Linked DNA regions of Homo sapiens. The protein of the gene in region 1 interacts with the protein of each later gene in a pairwise test. Each region holds a gene or a part of one and is shown in the gene's direction. Other genes may lie near its edges.

Evidence for each region.
Region 2: the proteins of PDE6D (region 1) and RAB18 interact in a two-hybrid assay, tested with the Homo sapiens proteins (one large-scale study listed by BioGRID and IntAct).

Annotation. Positions count from the first base shown.
Region 1 is NC_000002.12:231,736,126-231,739,946, reverse strand, and holds part of PDE6D (retinal rod rhodopsin-sensitive cGMP 3',5'-cyclic phosphodiesterase subunit delta), read left to right. Parts: intron 1-744; coding exon of another isoform or gene 745-758; coding exon 759-847; intron 848-1,808; coding exon 1,809-1,934; intron 1,935-2,654; coding exon 2,655-2,760; intron 2,761-3,821. UniProt on the Homo sapiens protein: Promotes the release of prenylated target proteins from cellular membranes. Modulates the activity of prenylated or palmitoylated Ras family members by regulating their subcellular location.
Region 2 is NC_000010.11:27,510,685-27,514,505, forward strand, and holds part of RAB18 (ras-related protein Rab-18), read left to right. Parts: intron 1-3,821. UniProt on the Homo sapiens protein: The small GTPases Rab are key regulators of intracellular membrane trafficking, from the formation of transport vesicles to their fusion with membranes.

The DNA of each region.
Region 1 (3,821 bases):
TTCTTAAATTTCTGTTGATACTTGGCTATCTTCTCATATTTAAAAACAGGGCACTCAGAGGCTGAGGCAGACAGATCACTTGAGGTCAGGAGTTCGAGACCAGCCTGGCCAACATGGTGAAACCCCATCTCTATTAAAAATACAAAAATAAGCTGGGCTTGGTGACGTGCTCCTATAATTCCAGCTACTCAGGAGGCTGAGGCACAAGAATTGCTTGAACCAAGGAGATGAAGGTTGTAGTGAGCCGAGATTGTGCCACTGCATTCCAGCCTGTGTGACAGAGTGAGACTCTGTTTCAAAAAAAAAAAACAGAGGGGGCCACTACAAAGCAATTTGAGAGTTCTGTGCTTGTGGGTGAAGTTTATGGACTGTGGCATTCACTATAGAGTGATCTTCATGAGTTGTTTCCTTGGGGTACATCTGATATTTGTTTCTTTAGGTATTTTATCTTGGTTGGTCAGATCCTGTTGGTAAATTTTAAATTTTGCACTATTCGTTTTCTGTCCCTTTCTTGCAGTCTCTAGGTGTGTGCAGTCTTAGGATTCTCATAGATAAAAGTAACTTCTCTAGGTTTCTGCTTCTTCCTTTAGATGTCTTTTTGACTCTCCTCACATTCTTATGTGCTTCCATGGCAATGAGCAGTTTGACAAACTTTTTAAAAAGTAAACAAGAGTTGGTGGGAGTAAACATGAGACACCTAGAATACAAAGTGGGAGTCACTTTCAGTGCCTTATTTTTCCTTAGTCATATTTGATCAGAAATTGGATGAACCTTCGGGATGCTGAGACAGGGAAGATACTCTGGCAAGGAACAGAAGACCTGTCTGTCCCTGGTGTGGAGCATGAAGGTACTTTCCAACCCTTTATCTACACAGGGCTGTGACCAATGCCAGACTAGCACCTGAGCATAAGAGAGCTAAGTTAACACATACCTAATAGGCGGGTGAGCCCCTGAAGACACAGCATGTTAATCCATGTGTTGTTGACAGTTTCAGTTACTTTCTTTTTTTTTTTTTTTTTTTTTTTTTGAGACACAGTCTTGCTCTATCACCCAGGCTGGATGGAATGCAGTGGTGTGATCTTGGCTCACTGCAACCTCTGCTTCCCAGGTTCCAGCGATTTTCATGCCTCAGCCTCCCGAGTAGCTGGGACTACAGGCGTGCGCCACCACATCTGGCTAATTTTTGTATTTTGAGTAGAGATGGGGTTTCACCATGTTGGCCATCCTGGTCTCGAACTCCGGACATCAAGTGATCTGCCCGCCTCAGCCTCCCAAAGTGCTGGGATTACAGGTGTGAGCCACCACGCCCAGCCAGTTACTTTCTTAACAGTTCTTTCTCTCACTTCCCAAAACCCATTTTGTGCTGATATTTTACCATTAGAACATACCCAAAGATAGAAACTAAGATCTCAACTTTTTCTCCAAAAGAAAATTTGCATTTTTATCTCCCTGAAGTAAAGAAGAAGGAAGGGGTTAAAATCACCAGAACAGAGTAGAGAGAAGGTACCCATGCAGCCCCCTTCCTGATGAGAGTAGTTAGATGAGGCCCTTAGATGCACAAAACCTGGTGTTCCTTGAAGATCTAATATCTTTCAGATACGGGTGACCAATTAGAGACCTCTGCTTTCAGCCACACAAAGTGTAATGCACTTACCAAGGCATTATCCAAAATGTAAGAAAGTGTTCTCTAAATCAGCTGTAAGAAAGTGTTCTCTAAATCAGCTGTAAGAAGCTCCCAGAAATTTGAAGCATCATAGTCCTGTGGTTTTCATTTAGAAAGGCTTCAACATTTGTTTTTCTCTTACCAGCCCGTGTTCCCAAGAAAATCCTCAAGTGCAAGGCAGTGTCTCGAGAACTTAATTTTTCTTCGACAGAACAAATGGAAAAATTCCGCCTGGAACAAAAAGTTTACTTCAAAGGGCAATGCCTAGAAGGTATTCTGCTGCCTACATGCCTGAAATCAGGGCTTAGGGCGACCAGGACAAAAGGCAACAATACCCAGTGAACTAAAGCAGTGCTTTGATAACATTCCTTTTACAACTCAGTTTGTGGTAGGATTCCTACACTCTGCAAGACTGTGAATCCCCAGTGAAACAAACCAAAACAAAGCTAGCCACTACAAGGGGCTTTGAGGTCTCTGACACTGGGAGCGTGGATGGTGGTGCCTGGTTTAGGCACTGACGTTGTATTGTGATATGATCATGGAGGAAGCTGCTATGAGCAGGGCCTAGTACAGTGCTCTACATACAGTATCATACAGATTTGACTGGCAAGGCCACTCTGCATTGAATTCTCACCATGCAGTGTAAAGGGCACATAAGCCCCTTCAAGCTAATTCCAAGTGAATTTAACTATGTATCTATATATAGTTCACATCTAGCCTACCTCTAAGAAAATGCTGCTTATATTGTGTCCTGCTCGCTGGTCCTAGTCCTTTAGACCTCAAAGCATGAGAAGCAAGCCTTTGGTGTGGTTCAGAGGACAACCTGAGCAGGCTTCCCTGTCTTTTTTACGCCCCTGGTCTGAGAGGTTGCTGATAGCTTCCTTTGGTGGTTCTCAGGGTAGGAAGAGGCTCACTCTAGAGAGGGAGACAAAGAGCCCTTAAACTTTATACTGGGGCACCTGCTCACCCCGGCTTTTCCTTCTTCCTTCAGAATGGTTCTTCGAGTTTGGCTTTGTGATCCCTAACTCCACAAATACCTGGCAGTCCTTGATAGAGGCAGCACCCGAGTCCCAGATGATGCCAGCAAGCGTCTTAACGTGAGTGAGCAGGTCTCAGGAAATTATGAAGTGTGTCTAGAAACAGGCATTCCAGGCAGGTGGGACTCCTGGTGCCATTCAGTGGGCAGAGAGCTCGGTTGAGAAATAGAGTAAAAGAGTATCCAAGGGTATCTAGGTTTCCAGGTTCCTGACCTTTTTCATATGAAAAAGACAGTATGATAGAGTAGAAAGAATAAAAAACTAAAAATAAAAATAAAACTTTAGATTAAACCAGATTTAAATTCCTGATTCACCCTGACTACCTGTGTCATCTTGGGCACTAATATACTTTATCTCTCTGAGCCTTAGTCTTTCATCTCTAAACACAGAAATTAATTCTGTCTTACAGAGGTGTAATGAAGATAAAATGTGATGACATGGAAGGAGACTGGCATTTAATATATATACCGAATCTATGTTAATTTGCTCCCATTCCTGACTACCGTACTTCCGGTATCTCTGTATTTTGTTTAGATCACCTTTAACAGAATCTGGCAAAGTCCTATTAATAATTCTGTTTTCGAGGATACTACTTGGTTACAGTTTTTTGGAGAATGGCTTACCATATTAATAGCTTTGGTTCCTGTTCCAAGAACAATTTGTTTGTGCTTTTTCCAAAAACACTGTCAATAACTTCCTACCTCCCATTGTCTGTGGGAAAGATGTTAGTCTCTCAAATGTTATAGTAATAGTACCTTCTAAAGAGTTAGCTGGGCGTAATGGCACACACCTGTAATCCCAGCTACTCAAGAAGCTGAGATAGGAGAATTGCTTGAACCCAGGAGGTGGAGGTTACAATGAGCCAAGATCATGTCACTGCATTCCAGCCTGGGTAGCAGACCAAGACTCTATTTCAAAAAAAAAAGAGTTAGTCCCACAGATAATTGTGTAATATTGGATCATCTCTTTCAACAGTTCCTTTATGAAAGCCATATTGAATTTGTTAAAAATTGAGGTTATTGACTTTAAGGTTTTTTGTTTTTGTTTTGGGTTTTGTTTATTTTATTTTTTTAAAAAACAGGGTCTTGCCATGTTGCCCAGGCTGGACTCCAACTCCTGGG
Region 2 (3,821 bases), on another chromosome or scaffold:
TACTAACTTCATCTGTAAATTGGGAGGTTTTGTTAAAATTTCATGATCTGATGAGGAGAATATAGTAAAGATGATCCTAGCATTATTGTTAGGGAAAATAAAGAGTTTCTGTTAACTGGCTTTATTTGTTTTCATTGATTGTATGTCTATTTTTAAAATTTTATTGTGAAACAATTTCAGACTCAAAGATTTGTAAAAATAGCACAAATAATTCTTATGTATCCTATTAAATTACTCCAGATGTTAATGTTTGTCACATTTGCTTTATCATTCTCTCTCTACACACAGTATTCTTTTTTAAAAAAATGAGAGTAGATTGTAGACATGATGTCTTCAACGTCTGCATACTTTAATGTGTATTTCTTAAATGAACATAGATACATTTTATTGTCTATACACAGATTTTATCAGTTGTCCCATTAATGTCCCATATAGCAAAAGACAAATAATTGTTTCGGGTCCAGGATCATACACTGATTTTAGTTATTTCTCTTTAGCCTCTTTTATTTCATTTAATTAATGAATTAATTTATTTTCGAGACAGAGTCTAGCTCTGTCGCTCAGGCTGAGTGCAGTGGCACCAACTCAGCTCAGTGCAACCTCCACTTTTCAGGTTCAAGTGATCCTCCTGCCTCAGCCACCCAAGTAGCTGGGACTACAGGCACATGCCACTGCGCCTGGCTAATTTTTTTTTGTATTTTTGATAGAGACGGGGTTTACCATGTTGGCCAGGCTGGTCTTGAGCTCCTGACCTCAAGTGATCTACCCACCTCGGCCTCCCAAAGTACTGGGATTGCAGGTGTGAGCCACCGCGTCGAGCCTCTTCAGCCTCTTTTAATCAGCAATTCTTCAGTCTTTATTTGCCTTTTCAGGGCCTTGACATTTTTGAAGAGTAAATAATTATTTTGTAGAATGTCTCTCAATTTGTGTATGTCCAGTATGTCCTTAACGGTTAGATTCAGGTTATGCAGTTTTGGCAGCAATTCCACAGAAGTGTTTTTCAGAACATAGTGTCAGTGAAGTTATTATTTTTCCCTTCATAACTAATATATTTCTTGTAGAGAGATACATTGAGACTGTATAGGTATCCTCCTTCTTACACTTTTTGCCCTCCTGTTGTAGCATCCATTGATAATTCTTGCCTGTGACAAGTGATAAGGACAGTATATGATCTTTTCATTCCAACTGTGATGGTTATCAAATGGGGATTTTTTTAAAATGCCATCACTCTGTCTATGTATCTTGTTTGGAATTCTGTAAGTAAGAGCTCTTTTTTTTTCTTTTTTTGTGAGGCAGTGTCTCACTGTGTTGCCCAGGCTGGCCTGAGACTCCTGGGCTCAAGTGATCCTCCTGCCTCAGCCTCCCAAGTAGCTGGAACTACAGCCATGTACCACCATGCCCAGCTCAGGAGGAGCTCATGTTTGTTTGTTTCTTTTTCTTCATATGAACTCATGGTGCCTCTAAATTTTCAATAAATTAGGCATTACTTAGCTTTTGCATGATATTAAGATTTACAGATTTACTCTTATTTGTGTCATAGGAAAGGGAATCATTTAAAACACGAATTCAAAATCCATTGTAATTTGGCTTTGTTGTATTATAATAATAATTATTATTATTTAATTTTATTTATTTATTTTTAGACACAGTCTTGCTCTGTTGCCCAGGCTGGAGTGAAGTGGCACAACCTTGGCTCACTGCAGCCTCCACCTCCCCATTCAAGTGATTCTGGTGCCTCAGCCTCCTGTGTAGCTGGGACTACAGGCATGCACCACCACACCTGGCTAATTTTTGTATTTTTAGTAGAGATGGGTTTTGCTATGTTGGCCAGTCTGGTCTTGAACTCCTGGCCTCAAGTGATCCACCCACCTTGGGCCTCCCAAAGTGTTGAGATTATAGGTGTGAGCCACTGTGCCCATACTGGTGTATTATTTACTCCTATAAAAAATTACTTAGTAGTAAAACCTTATTTTGGTCAGAACCTGCCTGAGTACGTATTGGTATTGGCTAGCCAGGAGGAGAGCAGTAGCAACTGGCAGGAAAATAAACTTGCCTAAAGTTAAAATTTTACTGAAGGAATGAACATACATATAATATTAACTGTCTTCATTACAAACCCAAATGGAATTTGGGGACTTGTGGCATGACAAATCGTGGGTTGTCTTTATTACTAAAAAGGCTTTGTCTTCTGCAAAGACAAATACTAAGATTATAGTATGCTGGTGAAAATATATGTAATTTGTTCCCCAAATAGGCCCTAGATCTTGAATATGTTGAACAAAATATCTTTTACATTGAAGCATCAGATTACTTTCAGCCTTAGGTAATAACATATATATATATATATATTTTTTTTTTTTTTTTGGAGACAAGAGTCTCGCTGTGTTGCCCAGGCCGGAGTGCAGTGGTGCATGATCTCAGCTCACTGCAATCTCCGCCTCCCAGGTTCAAGTGATTCTTCTGCCTCAGCCTCCCAAGAAGCTGGGATTGCAGGTGTGTGCCACCATGCCTTGCTAATTTTTATGTTTTTAGTAGAGATGGGGTTTTACTATATTGGCCAGGCTGGTCTTGAACTCCTGACCTCAAGTGATCCACCCGCCTCAGCCTCCCAAAGTGCTAGGATTACAGGTGTGAGCCACCACGCCCAGCCCACACATGAGTTTTAAACATAAAAACAATTACTTAATGGCCTTGTGAAAATTAGTGTTTTATGAAAATTGGTATTTTACCCCACAGTAAAATAGTAGTAAGGAAAGTGTATTGTTACCTTTTAGTAACTTAGTGAGACACTTAAGTTTCTGTCTTGCATAAAATACTCTTTTAAGATAATTGTTGGATTTGGGATTTGCAGATGGTACTATAAAGTTAGCATTCTTCTTTCTTGGCAATTAGCTAAAAACAACAAAGAGAGGGAAAAACTGACACACAAACCCAGCATTCCACTAAACTAGAAGACAGTTAAAAACCCCAAGCCACAAAATAGGTGGAAATGTTGCCAGGAGCAGTGGCCATCAGGCTGGCTGCATGTGGGAAGAAGTAGGTAGGATGCCGTGGCTGTGGAGCTCAGAGACAACAAGAAACACCCATGAAACTGCAAGGCCCCCCTGAGGTATAAAACCTAAACCCCTTGTTTACAAAAGTGAAGTGGGTTTCTTCAGCTCAAGGCAGGAGCTTTCCTGCACCTGGTTTAATTCTAAGAAGTCGGGGAAATGAAGCCAAACAAGGAGTCACATAAACAAGCCATTTTTGCAGGAAGTAATATGTGTCTATCTCTATAGCAGTTGGGGAGGAGATGACTGCATTGTGAAAAACCTCCAGACTGCCTGTCTGCATTGGCTGTTGAGAAGTAAAATGCTAAACTGTCTCTTAGGTAAATCTCTGAATCACGAAAAAGTTGTCAGTCCAGAACTGGAGGCACTCTGGCCTTCTGCATAAACCTCCTACAAATATCAGGTTCTGGACAACCAGCACTTCTTCAGAGATGAATAATCAAAAGGAATTCATTAAGCTTGACTGCCACAAATGTTTGGAAATAAAAAAGGAAGAAAGAAACAGAAAAACAAAGGACAGATGAAGAACAGTAACCTAAAATATTGCCATAAAGAAGATGAATATTGTGATCAAACATTTTGCCATGAGTTTAGAAAACTTAATGAAGTATTTACTGCTGAGAGCACAACGCACTTGACATAAGAGGCCGGGGAAGAAATAGAATGATTGCATGAGAAAATGCAAGGTAAGCTGATTGAGTGGAAAGAAAAATAAATGAAATTAGAAAATAAAACTATTACTGAAATGAAGATGAAATTGAAAGGATCACA